3 separate regions of the Homo sapiens genome follow, and all the other regions are linked to region 1. The links come from fine-mapping of genetic effects on gene expression. A gene starts in region 1. Each other region holds a variant in brackets. All regions are shown on one strand. Distances are from middle to middle. Region 1 holds the start of PLXND1 (plexin D1). Region 2 overlaps TMCC1 (transmembrane and coiled-coil domain family 1). Region 3 overlaps PLXND1 (plexin D1).

Evidence for each region. PIP is the estimated chance that this variant, and not a neighbour inherited with it, causes the effect.
Region 2: its variant is the best candidate, but not a certain one, in a credible set for the expression of PLXND1 in whole blood (INTERVAL, PIP 0.66).
Region 3: its variant is the best candidate, but not a certain one, in a credible set for the expression of PLXND1 in lung (TOPMed, PIP 0.51).

What each region holds. Positions count from the first base shown.
Region 1 is chr3:129,602,483-129,610,633 of GRCh38, forward strand. It overlaps PLXND1 (plexin D1), which reads right to left and starts at 4,194. Exons shown (of 36, transcript NM_015103.3): 1 at 2,847-4,194. The coding sequence starts at 4,157. It overlaps LOC124909431 (a long non-coding RNA gene), which reads right to left. Exons shown (of 2, transcript XR_007096079.1): 2 at 7,396-7,872. RefSeq lists enhancers at 453-1,445, 2,438-3,430, 4,423-5,415, 5,416-6,406 and silencers at 724-1,018, 4,153-4,212, 4,363-4,522.
Region 2 is chr3:129,740,009-129,748,159 of GRCh38, forward strand. The region is part of intron 4 of TMCC1 (transmembrane and coiled-coil domain family 1); the gene reads right to left. Among named protein-coding and RNA genes, the nearest start is that of PLXND1, 140 kb to the left of the region's middle. The variant C/T (reference allele first, on the strand shown) is at 4,654.
Region 3 is chr3:129,552,327-129,560,477 of GRCh38, forward strand. It overlaps PLXND1 (plexin D1), which reads right to left. Exons shown (of 36, transcript NM_015103.3): 31 at 8,004-8,108; 32 at 7,294-7,457; 33 at 6,102-6,249; 34 at 4,757-4,897; 35 at 4,291-4,365; 36 at 2,888-4,102. The coding sequence ends at 3,986. Among named protein-coding and RNA genes, the nearest start is that of H1-8, 13 kb to the left of the region's middle. RefSeq lists enhancers at 5,985-6,874, 6,440-6,734. The variant C/T (reference allele first, on the strand shown) is at 3,287.

The DNA.
Region 1 (8,151 bases):
GCATTGCCCTGTGTATAAGGGCCTGGTCACACATCCGTCCTCGGCTCACCTGCCCAGCCCACAAGAGTAGAAACAAAGTGAGTTGCCATTGGCTCCCCAGGGCACAGCATGGGACTGGGCTCACAATAGGGACTTAGTAAATGTCTATGGAGGTGTCATCTGGGGCTAGAAGTAGGAGATGGTGGGGTGTTTACAGCTGCAGAACAAGCCAGATTAGGCAACTGCTCTCCAGGACCAAGCAGAGACCTGTGCTAATAATGTCCCTTAGAGTAATAACAAGAAGAACTGCCATCTGCTTGGTGCTTACTGTGTACTGGGTACACTGAGCTGCATTTATCGATTCATCTAGTCCTTAAAACAATGCTTTGGGATAAGGATTGCTTTTACTGTCCCCACTTCACAGATGAAGAAACTGAGGCCCAGAGAGGTTAAGTTCCTTGGCCAAGGTCACACAGCTGGGAAGTGACAAAGTGGGACTTGAACCCAAGCAGCCTGATGCAAAGTCTAGGTTCTGAATCTGTCGCTGCATAGCTGGCAACAGCCTGGAGCAAGAATAATGATCCCTCCCCCACCCCTGCCCATGCTAGAGGCCCAGACCGGGGACCTTGAGCACCTCTGGGAGATACTGCCAAGTGGCACTGGCCTGTGCCCACAGCGGGCACGGCGAAGAGGAGAAGGGTGTGGAAAACACAGGGAGGGTGACCAAGGAAGGCCGCAGCCGGAATCTGTGGCCTTGGGGTGGGGAAGAGGCCCTTCGCCACTCTGTCCTGGGGCTGTGTCCCTGGAGAGGCCCTGTCCCCTTAGGTAGAGAAGCTCCAGCCCCCCTCAGCTGGGTGAGTCACTGCACCGAGGGAGCGGACCGTGGGAACCAGAATGGTTCTTGCCAGAGGGGGAGGGAACCCTGGGCTGGCCTAAGGAATCCCACAGATCAGCTTACACCAAAGGGCCGAGACACAGGGCCTGAAACTACTGGAGGAAGGCCCTCAGTCCACAGGACACTTCTCTCCATTCAGCGACTCCCCACTGAGACCCCCAGTGCCAAACACAGTTGCCTGCGAGATGAAGCTCTGGGGTGGAGATGGTGGATGAACCAACCATGGCACAGGGCAAGCAGCCCCACCACCCTTTGGACTGTCTGCCCTGCTCACCCACCGTGACCTTTACTTTCAGGGTGGCCGGCCAGATGGTGGGCAGTCGTGGGAGACCGACCTCGACCTTGGGAGAAGGAATCTGCATTTTCTCAAAGCCCCAGTGTTGGGCCCGCCCACAGAGGAATGGTTAATCTCATGAAATTCTTGTCACAGCCATGGAGAAGGGACAGGGTGGGGCCCCAAGGAAGGCTTGGGTCACCACAAGAAGGCTGAGTTCTGCATTTTGCTGATGGAGATGCAGCTTCCTAAGGGAATGGCAGGCAGTGGAGCTGAAGTGGGCTCGCCAGACTCAGATGGGTGGAGGGTGTGGGAAAGGCCCCAGTGTCATTCTGGGGCCTCATTCCTCAGGGTGAACTATGGGGATCAACAGACCCAGCTCCCAAAGCCAGTGTGAGGAGCAATCCCTTGCCATGAACTTCCTTTCAGGGAACCACACCAAGTCCCCTCCCGCACCCTTGTCATGTCAACACACATGCTGATTCCGTCAACCTGGCCCCCCTTGCTACTGCCCAACCCAGCCTCAGACACCTGGGCCCCATGCCTGCCTGTACTCCTCCTCATTCCCCACTGAGCCCCACGGCCCTCTCCTGCCCCCAAAACACCCCTGTTCACATCCCTCCATTCTCCTGGCCCTGGCATCTGCCCACCCCAGCTGCCTGGGACGCCCCCAAAACACACGCACTCTGAGATCCAAGTCCAGAAGGCAGCAAAGGCTGGGCATTAAAAACACAGATGCTGAGGCCAGACAGGCTGGATTCAAATCCACCTCTGCTAGTGCCCAACTGTGTGATCCTCAGCAAGTTGCTTAACCTCTCTGTGCCTGTTTCTTCATCTGTAAAATGTGATGAGAATAGAGGCTACCTGAGAGGGTTGTTCTGAGAACTGGGAATTGTGACATGTGATGCCCCTAGCTGGCACTCCACAAGTGCTATTGTTTACCCCAGACTCCCACACCTGGTACATACTAGGTGCTCAGGAAATATTTGCAGAATAGGTGAATAAAAGTTGGCCTCAGGCACACACCTGTTTGCCAACCATGCAGCCTCCTCAGAGTACCGACTCATGCCCAAATACCTGCGTCCCCTGCCACGCACATCCCACTGCACACCTAGCCCTGTCCCGTTGTACCAGTGTCTGTGCAGTACACCTGTCTGCCCTGTGCGTCTTCAGGCCCCAGCTTGCTGGCACACAAGTCCATGCAGACATCTGCAGGGCCCTGGTGCACACCTGTGTGCCTCCTTGCACACCTGCCACACCCATGCACCCATCACCAACGTGCAATGGTAACTCTGACAGGCTCACGCAGTGGCCCCAGAACACAACTTTGGTCAGGCATGCAGTCACTTACTGCGCCCTCAGCATGCACCTGTGACCCTCACGTGCATACCTGGGCTTTATGCGCACCTGGGTACCTGTGGCAACTTGGACCCCTCCCAGTACGCCTAGGTATGCGCGCCCATGAGCCGGCACTCACTTGAGTCCCTGCACATGCCCACCTGGGCCATACAGGCGCCAGTAGTACCCCTCGGGGGACACCTGTATTCTCGCGTGCACACCTGGGTTCCACGTACATCTGGATCTCTGCGCGCTCCCACCTGTGACCCACTCAGCTCACGACCCGCTCGGTTCCCGCCCGCCCCCGCCCCCGCCCCCGCCGCCGCCGCCGCCGCCGCCGCCGCCACCGCCCGGGTGTACCTGGATGTTGAGCTTGCGCTCACAGGCCGGTCCCGTGCCCTGCACCACGCTGTCGAGCACCGCCACCACGTCGGGCGCCGGTTCCACGAAGCAGGCGGTGCGCGCAGCTCGGATGGCGGCTCGCACGTCGGCGAAGCGGAAGGCGCAGAGTGCGGCCGGAGCAGCGCGGGCCGCGGGGGACCCCTGGGGCCGCTCGAAGACAGCAAAGAGCCGCTCCCGGGCTGGGAAGACCGACACCAGGCGGCTGTAGAGGTCGCCGCGGCCCGCGCCGCCCGCGCACTGCAAGCCCAACTGGATGTAGGACTCGGTGAGCTTCTTGGCGTCGCCGCCGGCGCCGTGGGGCAGGCAGATGCGCGCCAGCAGGCTCCGCGCCTGGCTCTCCTTGTCGCCCGCGCGCGCCTCGCTGTTGAGCGCCAGGTACGCGTAGGACTGTGCACCCGGCGGCGGGTCGGACGGGTGCAGGAAGGCGCTCACGAAGCCCAGCTTGTGCTGCTCCTTGGCGCCCTGCTTGATCTTGAGGATGTTGTCGTCGGAGGGGTTGAGGTCGAAGGTGAAGAGCTTGGCCAGGTCGCCGCGCGTGTCCAGGGAGCGGATGGCGATCTCGGGCGTGTTCTCGAAGCGGTGGTCCTCCAGGCTGCGGTTGCGCGGGAAGAAGGAGCTGCCGTAACCGGTGTACGTGGCGCCCACGAGCAGGCGGCTGCCCCCCGCGCCCGCGGCGGGAGGCAGAACTAGCCCCACGGTGGACGCGTTCGGGTGGTTGGCCGCCACGTTCAGCATGCTGGGGAACACCGTGACGGGCTCGGCGGGCGGCGCGGCGGGCGGGAAGCGCACGGCCACGGCCGAGATGTTGCCCCGGCGCCGCAGCTGGCAGAAGCCCTGGTAGATGGACCCGCACACGACTACCAGGCCCTGGCCGGGGTCCAGCTGCAGGATCTTGTTGTAGTTGTCCGTGAGGCGCCGCGGGTGCTCGCACGAGGCCTGCGGCAGCTGCGGAGCGTGACACAGCGGGCTGTCGGGCACCGGGCCCACGGCCGCCTCGGCCTCCAGGCTCAGGTTGGCGCCCGACAGCTGATAGAGGCGGTTGACGGCCGCCAGGTACACGGTCCCCGCCGCGCCGTCCAGGGCGAAGTTGTTGGTGGGCGTGGGCGAGGGGAACCGACGCTGGATCTCCAGGGCGCCGGCCCGCGCCGCCCCCAGGAGCAGCAGCAACAGCAGCGGCACCGGGCACCGCGGCGGCGTCTGGAACGGCGGGGGGCTGGCGGCGGCGGCCCGGGCGCTAAGGGGTGCGCCGCCCGCGGCGCGAGGAGCCATCCGGGCGTGCGCGGGCTGCGCGGCGCGGCGAGTGCATGGGGCGAGGCGCGGCCGGGAGCCGGGAGCCCGGAGGCGGCGGGAGGCGGGGGGCGGGCCCGGGCCGCGATGCGCTTCCTGCCCGCGCCAGCCGCCCCCGACCCCGGCGCCCGGGCCCGGGTCAGCCTCGCCGCGCAGCCCGGGGGCGGGGCGGGGGCGGCTCCGCTGCGGACACGCCCTCACTCCCCGCCCCGGCCCCGCCCGCCCCCGGGACCCCCGCCTGCCCCTGGCCGCCCTGGGCCACGCCCCGCCGTCCGCGGGTCCCGCCGCCCGCGCCCTCCAGGACCCGCCCGCGGCCCCAGGGTCCCTCCCCGTAGCCGCCGCCGCCGTCGCTCGCTCTCCTCGCTCTTTCCTCCCACTTGGCCGCTTGGCCTGCCTCGCTCGCGCCTGTTTTCTCTTTTCCGCCCTCTCCCCCACCCCGTCTCTCCCTCTCTCTGCGTCTCTCGGTCTCTGCGTCTCTCCGTCTCTGTCCCCACCCCAAACTCCGCGCGTGTGGCGCTTCTCCGGGTTCTGCCTCTGCTTCTCCTTCTCCCTCCGACTCCGCTTCGCTCTCCAGTCCCTGGCAGCCCCGCCCCCGGCCCTTTCTAGTCTCCTTCTCTCTCCTGCTCCGTTTTTCCGTCCCTGACGCTCGCTCCCTCTCTCCGTGGCTCCCTCTGCCTCCCCCTCGGACCCTCCGTCCCTCTCTCGGTCCCTCTGAGCTCCCCTTTCCTTCTCCCTCTGCCTTCCCGAACCCTGTGTCTCCCCTCCACACTCAGCCTCCCTCCACCACCTTTCTCAGGCACTGTCCAGGCCTTCGCTCCCCCGGTGCCGGCCAGTCGGGCCCCCCAGACCCCATAATCTGTCCCCCAAACCCCAGACCCATAAAAGGGATTTACAAGTGGCAGGGCCAGAGGGACCAGTGCTCAGGGTCAGATATATAAATGAGGAAAACATGGAGAGAGGAAATAGTTCCAGCCAGTGGCCCACAACCGATAGCCAGAGCAAGGCCTTGGTCCTGGAGCCCACAGTTGCCTCCTGTGGAGACCCAGCCGCACCCCCACCCCTGGCACCCCCGCCAGGCACTTTCCCTGACATCCTCCCAGGCTTAGTGGAAGATTAGTCCCACAAAAGCCGGCACTGGGCAGGGTTCTTGATCTCAAAAGCAGCGTTAGGGGCAGGCAGCCTGGTTCCAAGGTCACAGCCCTGTGAGGACCATGCGCCGTGGCTGTTTTGCGGGGGTGCTCACACAGGGCTAGCCCGTGCCAGACACTGTGCCAAGCACTTGCCATGTACGGGCTCTCTTTTTCCTCACAGATTCCCCCGAGGCGAGCGCTATTGGTAACCCATCTTCCAGATATGGAAACCAAGGCTGAGGGGAAGGGACTGGCCCAAGATGCACAGCTCATGAGGAGCAGAGCTACAGTGTTTGAAAGCAAAAGCCCTTCAGCTCCGACCTCTCAGAACGGGGCCTCCCATCAGACCCCCAGCTTCCACAGGGTGCCCGGTGGGCCTCACTCTGAGAGTAGCGGGACCTCATTTTCCTCTTTCCCACCCAACCAGGAAGGAAGGGCAGGGGTGTCTGTGCACCATGGGGCCGGCAGGAAAGGCTGGGCCTGCAGCCGCCCCCCACTTCCCTCAACACCCTCGCCTTCCTGCCATCCTGCCCGCCTTGTTCCAGACCCCTCAGCCCTGGTCTGGCCACTGCTTTGATGGCCGGGAGTGTTGAGCTGCAGGAAATTGGAGGCCCCCTCCCAGGCCCATCCACCCACCAAGAGCCACTCAGGGGACTGCCCGTGGGACTGTGTCCCTGTCTTCCTCTCTGGATGGAGAAGGCGCACATCGTGCCACCCGTGGGGGCCAACTGCAGAGCCCAGCAGGGGTGCATGGGGCCTGCCTCCATGCCCCTCCTCCTCACTCACATCCTCAGTGCCCCCACCCCAGTCCATCCGCTGGTCTCTCTGTCTTATCTCTCTCTCTCCTGCCCCCACCCATCTCTGTTCCTATCTGTCTTGCTCCTCCCGTTCACTCTCTTTGTCTCTCCTTCTCTCAGTGTCTTGCCCCCTTCCCTTTCCACTCTTCATCTGTCTCTCTGTGTCTCTATCTCTGTCTCTCTCTCTGTCTCCCTCCCTATCCCTCACCCCCACTCCCTCTCCAGCCCCTCCTCTCTTCCTTCCTGTCTCCCGCTCATCTGGTTCATCTTGCTGCATCCTGCAGCTCCCCCCACTGAGCCGTGAGGATAATGCTCAGTGTTGTCTTAGACCAGCCTGTGGTGATGATCCTGGGCACTTGGGACACAAGCTCCCTGCCAAGCTGAGCAGTGGGGTTTAGGAGCTCTCTAGGTGAAGGGTATTCGGGTCTGAGTATCCTCACATCAACTGGAGGTGAGAAGTGCTGTGTGGTCTTGTGCAAGGCACTCACCCTCTCTGAGCCTCAGTTTCCTCAACTGTAAAATGAGGACAATCGTAGCAGAACACCTGCCCCTGGGAGGGTGTGAGATGGAGAATATAACATAACAGGTGTCAAGCACAACAAGGCTCTTAGCAAACACCAGTTTCTCCCCGCCTTGTGGCAGTGAACCATGACCCCTGAAGCCCATGTTAGAGCCAGGAGTTGGGGTGGGGGGCATTGCAACTAAAGACCAGGGCTCCACCTCCTGTCCTGAGCCCCAATGTGGCTAGCAGAGCCACCAGACGGTGAGAGTGAATCCTGTGCCCAGCACTGCCCTACCAGATCTTACACCATCCTTGCAGCCAGCTGACTAGGCTGTGGTCAGCAAACCCATTTCACAGATGGGGAAACTGAGGGGCATTAGCAAGGTAAGGATTGAAACCCAGATCTGGCTCCACATCTTATGATTTCTCCCTTCTACCCATTAGCTGGGAGCACCATCAGGCCAGGATGGCTCATGGTGGCAGCCCCTATACCCCTGGCTGGGCAGAGGAGGTGCTGACAATTACTGGCTGAATGAATGAATAAAGGAAGGAACAAACCACACCTTCCCTGGCCTTACTAAGATGCAATGAGGTGTTCTTCCAGAGGGAATTTTGGAGGGAACCAAGGGGAGATGAAAGGTACTCAGGAGTGGGGATTAGGTGGGACCCAGCAATAACTAACTTGGAATGAACTAACCCAGAATAGCCAGACCTAGTTGGTTATTCACACTGCAATTTGGGCCTTTTTCAGTTTTTGTTCAAGTCTGATTATATCAAGGAAAAGGTCTTGGTTTGAGGCTAACATGTCTTTAATGACTGTAACATTTGTCACTGTCTCTTTTTAATAGAGAGAAGGTCTCAAACTCAGGGCTGTTGACATCAGCGTGCTAGAATGTACTGATAGCGCTTTGTTTTCTTTGTACTTGCCGTTACTTTCTGGTTTTGGCAAGTGCTACTGGTTTTCCATGTACAGTAATGATGTAAAGCTTCCTTGATAAATGCATTGATTGAAGTCCTTTAAAAGTGAGTTAAAGACAAATGTGAAATAGGTGATAATCCAGATGCCACCAAAATGCCTGAAATTTGGGAAATGTCCAGCAGTGCCTTTGAAGACGAGGACCTGGTGGCCGAGTCAGGGCAGTCTTGCTTGGGGCACGGTGGTCAACGGCTATGCTGGCTCGGAGAAGGCGGGCCTGGGCCTTCCACCCCACTGGGTGGGCTTCCCACCCTGTCCTGTCCATTCTCACCTCTGACTGCCCAGGGCAGAGCTGTGAGGAGACAGAGGAAATGTTTTTCTTCTTCAATTGGAAAAAATAACAGTGGGGCCAGGGTTGCGCTGGGAGGAGGGGGCTCCTGCCCTCCCGTCCCTTGGGCCTGGCCTCTGAGAACGTTTCCTTGCAGGAAATGCCCCTGCAAGGTTAATGCTTTAGAGCACCGCCTCAGCCACAGGAAGGTGCTGGAAACAAGAGTCCTAGGGACGGCTTGGCAATCCAGCCATGGGCCTAGGTGGTGCCGGGAGCCATCACTGCTGCTTCTCGGGGGCTGGA
Region 2 (8,151 bases), 140 kb after region 1:
TCTCTCAAATAATGTTTCTCAACTCAATTGTTCCTTCTGAATCCCAGTCCTGCCATTTCAGAGAAACAGAGCGGTGTAAGTGAGAACAGCTCAGGTCTTTGCAATCTCTGAAGACGTCCTAGTCTGCACGTGTTTCAGACTGCCTTGCATGGAGCCTGGGCCCAATATATACTAGTTACCTTTCCTGTTCCATACTTCCATCTCAGATGTATTCTCCTAGATACCAATCACTATGAATTTCTATGCAGAAATTGCAAGTCTGCTAGTCAGAATTAGAGTTCAAAGTTCTTTGCTTCCCCTGTGCCAGCTGATGACATCTCCACACCTCAGTTCTATCCAAGAGAAGCATGTCCACTGCTTGATAACTTAGTAGCACAAGTAAAGCTTAAACTTTGTACTCGTCATTAAAAAGGCAATGGCATAGGATAAATCAAGGAATAAAAATTGTTCTGCTCTTTTCTGTACTTCCTTTCTGGTATGACTCTTAATATATTCCCAAATAATGTTTCCTAACTCATGGGAGTTCTCAACTCAACCACGGGAAGGGTGAGAAGTATGCAAAAAGCTGAGATCAGAGCTATAAAGTACTCAAGAGATGCTTAGTTCCATGACATTGGGAAAGTAACCACAGGCCCTTTATCGGTGGGGTGAGAAGAGTATAAATATGAGAACCAATTCTAAGAAATGATTTTTTCATAGTTCAAAGCAAAGTCTACCTATCTCTACAAGCTGTAATTTATTTTGGCCTCTTGTACTTACCACTGTTCCCCATTGTGACTTCATTACCTCACTGGTCTTCTTTCTTTGACTCCTGAACAAAAATTTCAAAGATTCTAGCACACGTACAGATAAACTATTATTTGACTGGGCTTTACAACATCTAGTTCTGGTACTTATAAGTTAATCAGATAGCATATACCTTTAACCTTATTAACATATGGCACTCTTCCACTTCACATCTGAGATCACCAATCTCAGGACTCATTGCCCCTTTGGAATTATACCTTAAGCTTTCATATGTCTAATATGTCTAATAATTTTAGTCTCATTGCTAGTATCCTATTCCCTTTCCATACCCACCCACCAGGATCTATTATCTTTCAAGCAAAAATCATGGTGATATAAAGAAATCAGGAAGAACTGGATTAGAATCACTGCTGTGTTGACTATGACAGTATAACTTTCATAATTACTGAAAACTGGTTTCTTCATCATCAAAAGGAGGATACAGCATCCCTTACATAATTGTTTTGAATAAAGACACATGTACTATCAGCTGCTACTAGTAGTACTGCACTGAATAATTTCCAAATTTCAAATATAATAATCCCTTCTACCTGTATGGCTGTTTAAAAAGTTTCCAAAGTAATTTGACATTATCTCCATTTTATAAAAGAGAAGATTGAGGCTTGCAAAAGTCCTGCATATGTTAGAGCCTCAGTAAAGGCAAGCTACCATTCAGAAGGCCATGATTTATTCAAGGTCACACACCTAATATAGATTATAATTAGAACTAAGGACTTCTGACTCTTCACTAACAATCTTTCTACTACTTTGCCACTGAGTTAATTGTCTCTAATTCTGTGCTGCTATATTTATTTGAAGGAAATAAAATTATAAATTACATTTTTTATGCTCGATCTCTGCTTTAACTGCTTTCTGTTGGCTTTATCTTATAAATTTAGAGCAGCTCTCATATACTTAAACTTGTCTCCATTTCTCCACACACTTATTATAATCACTGAAGATTCCACAACTTATTAAACAGAAGAGGTTGAGATCATCAGTTATATCTTAACAGACTTCTACCACTACAACTTCATTCTCTAATTCCGTATTTTAACTCTTACTTATATACAACACAGGCAAACACCTCTCTGATTCAAATATCTTATCTTAATCTCATATAATTCACATAATTTATCTAGAAACCAGACTGGAATGCTATCATTTCTGCTATTTAAATTCCTCCTTTAAAGACAATGCTGAAGAATCATTTCCTCTGTCAAGATAACTCACAGGGAAAAGATGAATAGTCTTGATCTTTTGGATGAAAGACCTAAATCTAAAACTCTCGTAAGAAAACATGGATGTAAATCTTTGTGACCTTGAATAGTCAATGAGTCTGTTTGTGTTTTTTTCCTGGTCCTTGATTTAGGATAGGCAGTGGTTTCTCAGATATGACACCAAAAACATAAACAACAAAAGAAAAAAAATAGATATGATCAAAATTAAAAACTGTTATGCTTCAAAGGACACCATTAACAAAGTGAAAAGATAAAAACCACAGAGGAAAGAATCTTGCAAATCATACATCTGATAAGGAACTTGTACACAGAATATATAAAAAATTATAAGTCAAAATTGAAAAGACAATCCAATTACAAAATGGACAGAGGACCTGAACAGACAGTTCTTCCAAGATGATTACAAATGGCCAATAAGCACATAAAAAGATGCTCAGCTCATCATTAACCACCAAGGAAGTGTAAATAAAAATGTGATACTACTTCATACCCACTAGGATGGCTATAAAGACAGATAATAATAACAATTGGTAAGAATGTGCAGAAATTGAAACCCTCATATATTGCTAGTGGTAAAAGGTATGGCATGTTTGGAAAATAGTCTGGCAATTCCCTAAATGATTAATCTACTCCTACATGTATACACCCAGGAGAAATGAATAAATGTTTCCACAGATATTCACAGCAGCGTTATTCATACTGTCCAAAAAGTAGAAACAACATAAATGTCCATCAACTGATAAATGGATAAAATGTGACATATCCACATAATAGAATATGATTTTGCAGTAAGAAATGCATTATGACATGGATAAACCTTCAAAACAATGTGCTAAATAAAAGTAGCCAGATCTGAAGGACCATGTATTACATGTTTCTGGAAAGAAGCCAGCCCCAAAGGACGACATATTGTATGATTCCCTTTATAGAAGATGTCCAGAATAGGCAAATCTATAGGGATAGAAAATAGATTAGTAATTGCCTAGTGCCGGGGGAGAATGGGGAGATTGGGCAGTGATGCCTAAGAGGTATGGGGCTTCCTTTTGAGATAATAAAAATGTTCTAAAATTGTAGTAATGGTTGCACTCTGTGAATCTACTAAAAGCCATGGACTGTATACTTTCAATGGGTGAGGTGTATGGTATAAGAATTATATTTCAAAAAGCTCTTTCTAAAAAGTCACTCCTCCATGAAATATTTCCACAGACGAGTCTCACTTGTCAGTTTCCTCATCTTTGAAGCTTCTTAAGAAAAAATTCTTGGTTGAACCAAGTCTCTGAGGATGATTTGCTTGTAGTTTGTACATCTGAACTTAATGATCAACTAAGAATTCTAGAGGGATTGGGATAAGGAAGGAATTAAACATTCCATAAAAGACTACTTTTGTAGAAAAGTGTCATCTGTACTCCATGGTATCGCCTATGGTAAATCTGTGGAATTAAGCAGCTACCCCTCTATATGTTTATGTGAAGTATTCAGAGCAAAAAATTAAATCACAAAGTGACAAGATAGGGTTGTAGTAACATTATACAAATGGCACCATGGAATATGCATGACTGATACCAGAATTAGAAATACTGATAAAATTGTTATATTACAATGAACCATGGATTCTTTTGGATTAAAAAAAGTCTCTTCATTCTAAACAATTTATGACTTATTTTACTAAAAAGGCTACGATAGCTGGCAAATAAGCTAACCTATCTGCAAAATGCCCATTCCTGCTAAAGAAAAAATTCTTGACCCAGAACTTCAAAAATAAAGTTAACTGAAGTCACAACGTGCTTGATATTTATTAACTCATTTTCCAATCAAGTTTTTAAAAATAACTTCACTGTTTTTTAAAAAAATCAGATTTCTTTTCATTCTGGTAGGTGTCATTTGCCAAGTGCACTTGTTTAAAAAAAAAAAAAAGAGTACAGTCATAATAGTATCTAATGAAGCTGTCCACAGTGAAAAGCCTCTTTAATTTCAGTGACACCTAAGAGTATGATTTTAAAATACTTTCTTTGAAATTATGTAAGTTTCTGGATTAATTCTGACTGATATTGTGTTCCATGTACCAAGTTAGATGCAAAATAGATGCTTACATAGCTGATAAGATATCTGAACCTTACAATTTCACCTTTTAACTTTAATACTGGCACCAAGTTAGAGGTCAAGGAGCTCTGGTAGCAATTTCAAGGGAGGACACAGGAGGATGTCAAAAAGATTGGTTGTCGTAGTTTTTAGAAACCTCAATACAACCCATTTAACTTCACCACTTTCTTTTTCCTTTTCTAGTTTTATTTTTAATATAAACAGACAGGGTCTCACTATGTTGCCCAGGCTGGTCTTGAACTCCTGGGCTCAAGCAATCCTCCTAACTCAGCGTCCGAAAGCACTGGGATTACAGGCGTGAGGCACCGCACCCAGCCTCTTTATTATTTTTTAAGAGATGAGGTCTTGCTATGTTGCCCAGGCTGGTCTCAAACTCCTAGGCTCAAGTGATCCTCCCACCTCAGCCTCTCAAGCAGCTGGAACTACAAGCACACACACCTGTGCCCAGCATAACGTCACCACTTTCTAAAGAAAATAGCATGCATACACACACATATATCACCTTCCTTATCATCACCAAGGTTTC[C/T]AATCATACATATTTAATATATAATGTTAGTATGGTATGATATACAAAGAGTTTCACATATATTTGATATAATCCTCAGAACAGCTCCAGGAGGCAGTTATAATTACTACCACCCTTCACTCAAAGATGAAACTGAGAGGATGAGAAACTTACTCAAGGTAACAAAGCTGAGAGGTAATAAAGAAGGATTTCAAATCCACGGTTTTCAGCTTACAAAGCCTATCTGTGCCTTGAACTATTATGATGCTTTTTGTTAATCATTTAGAGTACATCAAGAATCTTCCTCACTGCTCCACAGAAGGAAAAATTCACAGTTCAGAAAGTTTAAGAGATTTCTCCATTATCACACAATAATAGAGCAATTTCAAGGGGAGATGTAGACATATTGAGTAATAATGGAGAGAATAAAAATTTCTTGTAAGACATGCACTGCACTGTCATGTGCTAAATGAAATTAAACTAGATTTCAAGGTATCAGCTACCATTTCTGGAGGCACTGCTATCTACTAGGAAGATTTTTATTCAAAAGTACAAAAACAAAGAGAAAAAAACTTCGTTACAATTTTAAACATGCACTCACACTTCTTGAAATTCACTCTTCTCTTGGGCTTGTATGATGAGATTATAAAACATTTTGTTGTCATATCCTACACCAACTGTACACCTTCTCTTGTGAGCACAGAGAATAACACCAACAGCTTCTCAGCCACAGTGCTAAACTGAGCGCTTCACTCCGCAGCTCAGCCTGTGCCAAGAGTAGTTTTGCATTTCTCTAAGCCTACTTGTTTCCACAAGAATCCTCCTCTTCAGAGCAAATGCCCTGATGGGAAATGCTGTATGTTTATAGTTGTGATTGCAGCCACTAGGGCTTGTTGCCAGACATTCTGGATCCTAAGGATCTTAGCCACTCTTTCTCCATTTTAGCTGCACAAAGCATGTCCTTCCCAAAGGAGAGAGAGAGAGAAGCCTTTAAATAGACACAGCTGAATCTTTTCTCATTTTAAAAAAGTAAGATGGGACCAGGCATGGTGGCTCACACCTGTAAATCCCAGCACTTTGGGAGGCCGAGGCGGGTGGATCACCTGAAGTCAGGAGTTCGAGACCAGCCTGGCCAACATGGTAAAACCCCGTCTCTACTAAAAATATAAAAAAATTAGCTGAGTGTGGTGGCACCTGCATATAATCCCAGCTACTCGGGAGCCGAGATTGTGCCACTGCACTCCAGCCTGGGCAACACAGTGAGACTCTCCCTAAAAAAAAAAAAGGAAAGAAAAAAAGCCAGATGGGGTCTTTCTTTGTTGCCCACGCTGGTCTCAAACACCTGGCCTTAAGTGATCCTCCCGCCTCAGCCTCCCAAAGTGCTGGGATTACAGACATGAGCCACTGCACCCAGCCCTGAACCTCTTTCCTTTTTCTCTTTTTAAATCCTTGCAAGGAGGGGGGTAAAAAAAACAACTAAGTACCCTTAGAGAGAAATTAATAAATATGCATATAGCTTTAAAAACTGGTTTAATTTTTTTTTTCCTGAGATGGAGTCCTGCTCTTGTTGCCCAGGCTGGAGTGCAGTGGCGTGATCTCAGCTCACTGCAACCTCCACCCCCCAGCTTCAAGTGATTCTCCTGCCTCAGCCTCCTGAGTAGTTGGGACTACAGGCGTGCGCCACCACGCCCAATTCATTTTTGTATTTTTTTTTTTTTTAAGTACAGACGGGGTTTCACCATGTTGGCCAGGATGGTCTTGATCTCTTGACCTCGTGATCCGCCCGCCTCGGCCTCCCAAAGTGCTAGGATTACAGGTTTAGTTTTTTTTAACTATGCAGACTGATGACTACTGTGTAATATAAAGTATTACAAACCATGGTTCTAAATTTGATCCTGCAAGTAAACTTGGTGATAATGAGCCAAGTCACATTTATACTCTGCCTCACTTGTGCATTTGAATAATAGGTGTTTTCCCCTAAAGGTATTGGGTGGCTTAAGGAAATACAATAAACATTGCTAGCATTCTTAAAAGAGCAAATGGAGCAATATAAGGAATATCTGAAATAAATGCATTCTCAATAGTTTAAAATTCCCTATACCTAATTCCCCTATATTCTTTACAAGGTTGGGGTAAGAGTCTGTTGTGTTCAGTATTACATCACCAGCACCCTGTGCAATGCCCTGAACACAGCAGGCACTCCACTGGAGATAAGAGTGTGGAGGAGCAGAAAGAACACCTACTACCTTACTTGGCCTCTTGCTAGTTTTTTAACATTGGGCAACCTTTTTAATCCCAATCTCAGTTTCCTCATCAGCACAACAGGATAATAATTACTTTGTATCATTGTTGGGAGAATAAATCATTGCTGTGAAAATGAATCAATGTATAATAGTACTTTTTCTTCTAGGCATTAAAAGGTATTCAATAAAATGTTAATTCCTCATATATATGAAGACTGATTTAAAACCTACATTTAATTAGGCCACACATGCTCTATTAACGTAAGCTGCAGGAGGATTTCTAAAAATAAACTCAGAGTCCCCTCAGTTACATATATATAAAAAAAAGTTCAACATTTTTTGCATCACAAACCCCTCTGAGAATTTAATGAAAACTATGCATTCTTTCTCCCGAAAAAAAATTCACACACATGCAAATTTACATATAATCCGAGGAAATCCATGGACCATATGGTTCTTTTCAAAGCTCAGCAAAGTCTGGCAACACTTCAGGAGTATATACATAATATTTGGCTCCATTTATAAACTTATATACCTTCATTTTAAGCTATATTGTTTCAAAATTATTTATAAATTACTTCGATAATTTAAAATATTTTAAAATTGAAACAACCACAATATTCCTATCTAATACCACAAGGTTTATTGTAGTTTTCTTCCTTTCCATATTTGGAACTCTCTTATTACTATGAGAAACCTGCTCTCATCACCCTCACTGTATTTATCAATCCCTCTCCTTCCATATGTAACCAATCTTCTATCTCTGCAGCTACCACCTCCCTGGTGTAGATGTCAACCTCATCCCACTTGGGCTCTGAAACTCCACACTAAGGAACTTCACTGCACCATGGATTCCCTTCTCACCCAACATGAATCCGACCCCTTATCATCACGCTGTACAGCTGCACAGACCCATTCCTTCCCCCTCACATCCCCTGGGCTCTGATGTGTCACCTGTCCGTACTCACTCCTTCCCACCCATGTCCTGCAGTAGCAGAAACACACTTTTCTCCTATAGTAATAACTAAGAAAGAACCCTGTAAACTGAATACAATCCAGGAAACTCCTTGGAAATATCTATGAAGAGAACTTGAAGAAAAAAGAACTTTAAACCATTTTCACACAGGATAAGACTTAGAAATATATTATTTTGAATAACTAGGAAAACATGGACTTAATCAGCACTCTTAGCTGAGCAAGTAGGTCATGTTACATACACCTAAAGAAATTTTACCCATATTATCTATAGAGACTCAGTATTCTGTGGCAAACCCAA
Region 3 (8,151 bases), 50 kb before region 1:
TCTTGTGTTTGAGGACACTTTTTGTTTTGTGATACTCACTCTTCAAACTTGGCCACCACTCTATGGGAAAGCCCATGCAGCTTGTGGAGAGGAACTGAGGACTCCATTTTTCAGCTCCTGCTGAACTCTCTGACCAGCTGGTACCACGTGCCACCATCTGAATGCGTGTTGGAACTGCATCTTCCAGCCCTAATTGAGCTGGCCCAGCAGAAACCTGGTGGAACAGGGACAAGCCTTTCCTGCCAAGCCCTGCCCTGATTGCAGATTCGTGGGCAAAATAAGTGACTGCTGTTATTTTAAGCCACTAGGTACTGGGGTGGTGTGTCCCATAGCAATATATCTTTCTAAACAGATCCCCTTCCTTTCACTGGAACAAGGGCTGCAGGGTAGATGGCGGCTGGATCACGCAGGGCCTTGTAAGCCAAGGGCAAGCACGGTGGGCTTTGTCATAAGGAACCATTAGAGGACGGCAAGCAACAGAGTCTCTGCAGGGATGTGGGCGGGCAGACAGGCCTGTGAGGAGGCTCCTGCCACAACCCAGATGAAGGGGGTGGTGACCAGCCAGGACATGCTCACAGAGGGAGGGTTAGAAGTGGTAGCTTCTGGATCGCTGTTGAAGATGGTGTGAACGGGCTCTGCTGATGGATTGGATGTAGGAAGGGTCACTGATGAGTCAGTCCACAATTTGGGGTCTAGATAGCTAAGTGACTGCTGGGTGACCATTTCCTGAGGTGAGGACTTGGCACGTGCCAGGAGGCTGCCGAGATATGGTCCTGATGAGAGGTGGCAGCCTAGCCACGGAGGACAGAGAGAAGGAAGGGGTGGACTAAAGGGAGTCAGAGGCAAACTGCACAGGACTTGAGAAGGGGGCAGACGGGGCACAAAGGGAAGCAGGCTGCTCAGCATGGGGCATCAGCTGCTCCCTTCCTGCCCCTGCTCCACCACCCCACCCTCTCCTCCTGGAATCCCGGCTTTGCCTAGATGTGCTGACAGCCCCCCTGGGGTGTCTGTAATGTGGCTGCCAGCAGGACCCAGAAGGGCACCCAGAGCAGATGGTGGGATGGGGCCGGGCTGGTGCTTCCTGAGGAGGGGTCTGCTCCTGCCACTGCTCATTCACGGCTTGGCCCAGTGCTGTGGCACCCCCAGGCAGCCTGCAGTGCGGGGGGCATCAGTGGGCATCTCACGTCCATGAGCTGGGGACAGGGGTGGGGGGTGTCTAGCATCCATGAAACCTTGGGCAAGTTACCTCCCTTAGCTGCAATGGTTTCTTTCCTTTTCAAAGGAGTTTAGTTTAAGGATGCTACATCAGGGGTCCCTAGCCTCCTATGACCCTCAAAGGGTAGGAACCTCCCTCCTGCCCACAGCTGCCAGGTCCTCAGAGCCCCAGATAAGGATTATAATTGGTTCATGGAAGGTGGCCACCTTCTGCGCTGAGAAACGACTCTGGAAACTAGAGATTTCCTCCATTTGCAAATACATTTCTAAACGTCAAGGAGGAACTGAATGTTAATCAGACATTAAGACAGGCTGTGGAATATTTAATGACATAGAAAGATGTTACTGACATATTGTCGCATGGGGGAAAATCAGGTTGCAAAATGGTGTGCACACCCTGATCCTGAGTTCACTCCTCGGCCCCGCCCCATCCAAGCGCCCCGTGCGGCTGGCGTTCTCAGAGACGCTCGCCACAAACGGTTAGGGCAGCTTTTATTTTCTTCACGCTTTTTGTGCTTCCTACATTTCTCTGGGAACCGTGTATTCATTCCAGAATCACACCCACCCCCCTCACCCTCAAAATGCTATCAAATGTGCTGATAACTTAAATTAGAAAATCTGCTGCTTAATAAGAAGGAATCAATGCTCAGAATAGAAAATGTGAAAGATAAAGACTATCTCTCCACACAGAAGCCACTGTAGGAAAAAGCTATTTTTAAAGCAAAAGGTTGTTTACTGTTCTCACTTTTCTGTTCTCATTAATTTTAGAACTGGTATTTGTGGGATTTTGTTTAAATTTTATGAATCTTTTGTCCTAGTTCTTACTCTTGATAAATACATGTGTAACTATTTTTCCTTCAAAAAAGCAAGAAATTAAGTGGAGTTGCTGTACCTTTGGAGCTGGCTCTCGAGATCTTTCCCTGGGGTTGGAGAGGAGCCAGCAGGGCTGGAAAGGGGTGTCTGCATCAGGTTCATTGTTCTTGTGGGCAGGGGTGAGGAACAGCCTGTACTTGTGGGGAACAGCGTTTAGGGTTAAACTGGGCTTGGGGGTTAAACTGCCTGCTTCCTTGTCTGAGAAATGAGCTTAATGCTACGTATTTTTTAAGCTTGATGAGAAATTCGGGGTAAGTTAAGTGTCAGTTCCCTTTCCAGGGTGGTCACCTTTGGCCTCCCCGCCCATTTTGGGGACCACTGTGGAGACTCTGGCCCGGAAGGACCATGGGACCTGGTCCTTATTCTGTCCCTTCCTGGTTGTGTGACCTTGAGAATTGCTTCAGCTGTGCTGAGCCTCAAGTTGCTGCGTCTGTCATACAGGGATGCTAGCACATTCCTGACGGGCTTGTTAGAGATGAGGTTAGGAGCAGGGCCCACCCAGTTGCAGGCAGCACACAGCAGCTGTGAAATCTTCCTGGAGGTCCCGGGGTGTCCTCAGAGCTTAAGGAATGGCAGCTCTGGGCCGGGCCCACAGCATGCATGCAGCCTGCACCGTCTCGTTTCATCTCCTGGCCTCTGACTGCCTTCTCAGAAGCTAGTCAGGTGTCTGCCCAAACCTCAAGAGTGCAGCTGAGACAGGAGGGACGGCAGGCTCCCTCCCTCCTCTCTCTCACAAACTGGTAAAGAAACTGCCCATTCTCCCGCTTGGCTATCTCAGGACAAAGGCTGGAGCCCACAGTAGGTTTGTCCGTAAGGCTTTTATTATAAAGAAGATTCCAGAGTCCCAGCTGCCCCCCTCCAGCCCCCATGGGCTCTGAGCCAGTCCCAACACTGGCTGAGTTGGCTGCGAGGGGCCCGCATGGCCCATCGGCCACAGAGGGTCGTTTCTGGCAGGAACGGAGTGGGTGGTAGTCTCAGGCGCCAGGGGCGCTCTGCCAGGTCTGCCCGCTCTCTGGAACAGTCATTTCCAGTGTTGCATGGGGAGCCTCTCGGGACCCCTCCCCGGGTCCTCTGCGCAAGCGGCAGCTATTCACAGTTGGTGCATGATACGTTTTTTAATATATAAAAGCTTTAAAAAAAAAAGTGGTGCTATCTTTAGAAACACTTTCAGCAAGATCAAGTAGCCCAGCTACAGCCT[C/T]GGTGCATCTTAACCCCTCTCCTTTTCCTGGAGACGGGGCTCCCAGCTCCTGTGCCCCCCATCCCTCCCCTCCACCCTCCCTGCTCCTGGAGAAGCCCACAGAGCACCCCATGGCGCGGGCACTGCCCACTCTACCAACAGCCGCCCAAGCAACAAAAATCTGACACTACTTGAAACTGTCTGTGGCCAGGATCCTCTACGGGTGAGGGGGAAGTGGAGATAACATTTTGGTAGTTGAAGCAGAAACCAATCAAAGGTCAGTTCAAGGAGGGCTCCCTGCACCAGTGTGGATGAGGTAGAGTTTCTGGGCTGCAGCCTCCGGGCTGGCGGCCTCCTCTCCCCCAGTTTGTGCTTGGCCGCCTGGATGCACGGGGCTCTTGGCAGCAGGACCAACTGGACGTTGTGGAGCAAGTGGGTGGGCACAGTGCAGGCCGTGCTGGGCAGATGGGGGAGCCTGACCAGCTCTCTGGCCTCCATCCCAGAGACTGATCTGGGGACAGGTGGGAGGGGATGGAGGTGCCCAGGGGTCAAGGCGGGGGCGCCCCTGTCTCAGAGAGCAGCCCCTCCTCCTGCCCCCGCCCCAGCCGTCTCTGCTCAGTATTTCCCAGTCTGAGTCACAGGCACGGGGTAGAAGATCAAGTTGAGGCCCAGTGGGCGTCCATTTCTCCCAGCAGCAGCCTGACCAACTCTCCATGTGTCTCAGGCCTCACTGTAGCACTCGTAGATGTTGTCCTCCATCAAAGCCACCACCTGCTCAAACTTGTGCTGCAGTTGTGTCCTCCGGGCCGTGGGGTTGGCCTCCAGCGCGGCCATGATCTGAGGGGAGCAGCGGAGTCAGCCGGGCCATGGCCGGTAGCCCTGCCTCAGTTCGTGGGAGAGAACACACCCCTGAACGTCTACCACGAGTGACATCCGTCCATTAGGGGCAAGCACCCTGAGATGTGTGTCCTTGAGTAGGAAGCTCACCTACCCCGAGGGCAGGTGCCTCACCCTGGGGCACTCACCTGCGGCCGATACCTCTTGGCGTACTTATAAATCTCTGCCATGGCCACATTGGTGTTGAACTCATTCTGGTATTTCTATAAGGAGGCAGGATGGGGAGGAGGTTAGCCCAGCGGTCAAAGCTGAGCCTAGTCCCAGCAAAGCCAGCTGCTTGCACACAATCCCCAACTCCCCACGGCCCCCACAGAACAGTTCAGCGATGAGGCCCCTCAAGTCCCATGGACGAAGACGGCTTCCCGGACCCTGAAGTCCAATCTCCTCTCCATCCAGAGGGTGCTCTCCTGCCCCCGCTCCTCAAACTCTGGGAAAATGCATGACGAATTTGCAGGCCAGCAAGAGGCCACAGCCACTTCTGAAATGCCCTCTGCGCTCCCTGCCCTTACTCCAGTGGAGGCATTGAGGCCCAGCCCCCGACCCCCGATCCCTCAGCTCTTCAGGCCCCCATCCCCCGCCGCCGAGCCACCGCACCCTCGACTCCTCGGCCAGATGGGCATTCATCTCTTGCTCGCTGAGCGGCGTCATGTCCTGGATCTGCTTGTAGTAGCGCTGCACGATCTTCCGGTACTCAGGAATCTCCTTGGCGTAGAGGAGCTTGTTGGTTGGCGAATCCTGGGCAGAGAAGAGCGAGGGTGTTAGATGGCTGCTGGAGAAAGGACGGATCTGGTCGTTTTCTGGATGAGCCCTCATCCCTCCTGCCACATAAGTGACCTTAGCAGGCCCCCGAGGCCCAAAGAGTCTCACCCGGTCACTGAACGTCCCCGCACTCAGCCGGCCCCAGACCAGGGGCTCCTCACTGTGCTCTGTCTGCCCCGCCTACTTTCCCCAGGACTGTTAGGACAATGATGTGGGTGGGGAGGGGCCCTACTTCTTTCAGGGGAAAAGTGCACGGGCATGCCAGCTCTTCACTGCACGCAGCCCATTCCACGTAACAAGGATGTGTCCTTCTCAGGGTGATAGGTCTTGGTGGCTAGGATTCCTGGAAGCCTGAGTGCTGGCTCAGTGGAATATTTCCCACCACATGCTCCTAACGCCTGAAAGAAGTGCCAAGAACACTCCCAGTTCTTTGTCAGTCACGGGCACCCTGCCTTCGGAGGCAGTACGTGAGTAGTAGTGGAGCGATGGCATTTTCTCCTTCCCGTGGTCCGTCTCTGAAATGCGTGGGCTAAATGCAGGGTCACACACGACCTGGACCAATCCTGCAGTGCCAGCTTTAATGATACAATCTCATCCCTGCTCACAGCAACCGGCTGCTTTCCTGCCTCCCTGTCTTTGCCTGCGCCGTTCTCTCTGCCTGGAAGGCCATCCTCTTTCATCTTCAACCTCTAAAGCCAGACACAGCCTTGTGTGCCCCCAACACACCGCATGAATCTCAGAGCTCCTAGCCACCCATCACCCCTCTGCCCACCCCTTCACTGAATGCTCGCTTGAATGGCTTTTGACTTTCAGGGGCTACTGCCCAGAGCCTGGCCCGGTTTTCAGATGATGTTGTGCCTGACCAAGCAGGTTGTCCAAGCTCATACTGGCTTTCCCACACCGGGTTCTCAGGCCTGTGTTCAAAGCCAGTGCCAGGCACAGCTGCAGCATGTGCAGTTGGTCTGCAGCGATACAGAGTTTCTGATGGAAGGTACTGGCTTCTAGGTGTCTCCCTGTCTGAATGAGTCACTCATCCCACATCCCCTAGACCTGAGATCTTTTGGTTCCCCTCCCAGGAAGATCTCTGAGCTCAGCCTCAGAGAGTCGAGGAGGCTACCCATGGTCGGCACCCCACTCTGGCCCTGTGCATGGGCCTGGCCTGGTCCTGGGAACAGCTGACCTTGCCCAGCTGCAGGTCAGAGATGGAGCAGGCGTCGATGAAGGCCTGCGCGATGACTGAAAGGCAGGCGTCGATGTGGTCTGTCTTGTCGATGTCAAAGACAAACTGGGGGTTCTTCAGGATGTTCACCCAGAACCGGAGAGGAAGGCTGTGGGGTAGGGTGACAAAGACAGTGAGGGTAGGGTGGGGTAGGAAGCAGTCGAGGGACAGTTGTGGAGGAGAGAGCTGGCTTTGTCCCTCAAGGGCCTGAGGTTGGAGCCTTGTCACAAGATGTGACCTTTGGGAACCTTAGTTTGCCTATCCCTGGCCAGCTGGGGTGCAGTGGGGCTGAGAGCCCGGTTTCCTGCTGGAGCAAGGCAGGAGCTACAGGGCTTAGCTGTACCCCCCAACCCCCTCCTGAGCCTCCAGTCAGGTCCTGGTTCTCATTAGAACCAGGTGCCGGCCCCCGGGCACCCCTGGCTCCTCCCTGAACCCTTGCAGGCAGCAGGAAGTCCGACATTAGCAGAGCAGCTGTGGCAGGGCTGTGGGGGGCAGGGCCTGGAGCTCTGGCCTTGTCCTCAAGAGGCCAGAGAGGGTGAGCAACACCCCCACCCCCACCTCAGGCCACCCAGTGACTCAGCAGCCTGGGCATGTGTACCCCCAGAGCTCTAGGAAGCTGCTGCCCTGCACAGAGGCGCCTGGGCTGGTGGTATTCTTCCTGAGGGTCAGGCTGGGTTTCCAGCAACTTCTTGTGGGGGTGCATGACCCCGACAAGCTAAGAGGTGCCTCAAAGGAGGGCTACCAACTGGGTAAGAGATTCAGATAATGTAGGGCCGAGCCTGGCTCTACTGTCCCAGGCTGTGTGGTCTTGAGCAGGTGCTGCTTCTCCGAGCCTCAGTGTGCTTATCTGTGAAGTGGAGCTGATGGTGCCCACCTGAGAGGGGTGCGGGAGAATGATAGTAAGGGCAACACCTAGACCATGCTTCTGGGCACTCTTCTAGTTAATTCCCACCATTAACATGGGTCGCATTTTACAGTGGAGGGGAAACTGAAGCACAGAGAGGCTAAGTCACTCATCCGAGAACACACAGCTGGGAAATGGCAGAGGAGGGCTTGACCCCAAGCAGGCGAGGCCAGAAGACTAGACTCTGAACCCCCTGCCACAGGGGCCCCAGTGGCACAGTGAAGTCCACACGGCCCCCCCACCCGCCACCTGTTGGTCTTCCAGATGTGTAGGGTGTCGGGGTCGGAGATTCCCCTCTTCTCAGCCTGCTCCTCCAGGAAGTCGAAAAAGTACTTGACAGCCAGTGGGGGCTTGTCTTCACGGATACTCAGAATGGCCTTGAACAGGTCATCCAGAAACTTCTGCAACGTGCCCTGCGGGGGAGTGGGGTGGCCGCCGTCAGCCCCGGGCCACGTGCAGAGGGCTAGTGGGCACCCTTGGTGGCTCTGCGGAGCTTGAAATGCCAGGCTGCTGAATGAGGAAGCCACATGGCATCAGGCTGGTCACCGAGCCTCTCTGGCTCACTTGCCTCCCAGAGGCGTTGAAAGGACTAATCGAGGCACTGGCACATGGAGTCGAGAACTGGAAGTGCCAGAGTATGGGCTGTGGGGTGCCGGCGCTGCCACTGAGCCACGTGGCCTTGGGGACATCACTGATCCCTCTGGGCCTCTGCTGTACCCTGTTACGTGGGCTAACATAGAAGTCTCTGTCAGGCATTTTTCCTGGCTGTGAGAAATGCCTCCTCAAGTGGGACCCTAAGCCTTCAGCCTCTTGCCCCTCCAGCCCCACAGGGGAAACAGGAAGAACTCACACCCCTCTCCCAGCCGCGGGTGCACAGCTGGCCCTGAGCAATGACCCTCTGGAGCTGGGGCTGGAGCCTTGTACCCACTGCACAGAGGGGAGACTGAGGCCGGACTCACCTTGGTGGAGAGCAGGCGGGTCAGGTAGATTTCCGGGAGCACCTTCTTGCGATGGCTCTGCCGGTGAGACTTCTTGGGCTCCGCCAGCTCGTCCGTAGGCAGCACCTGGGAGGCCGGGCAGTGGTCAGTGTCCGCACCAGGCCCCATC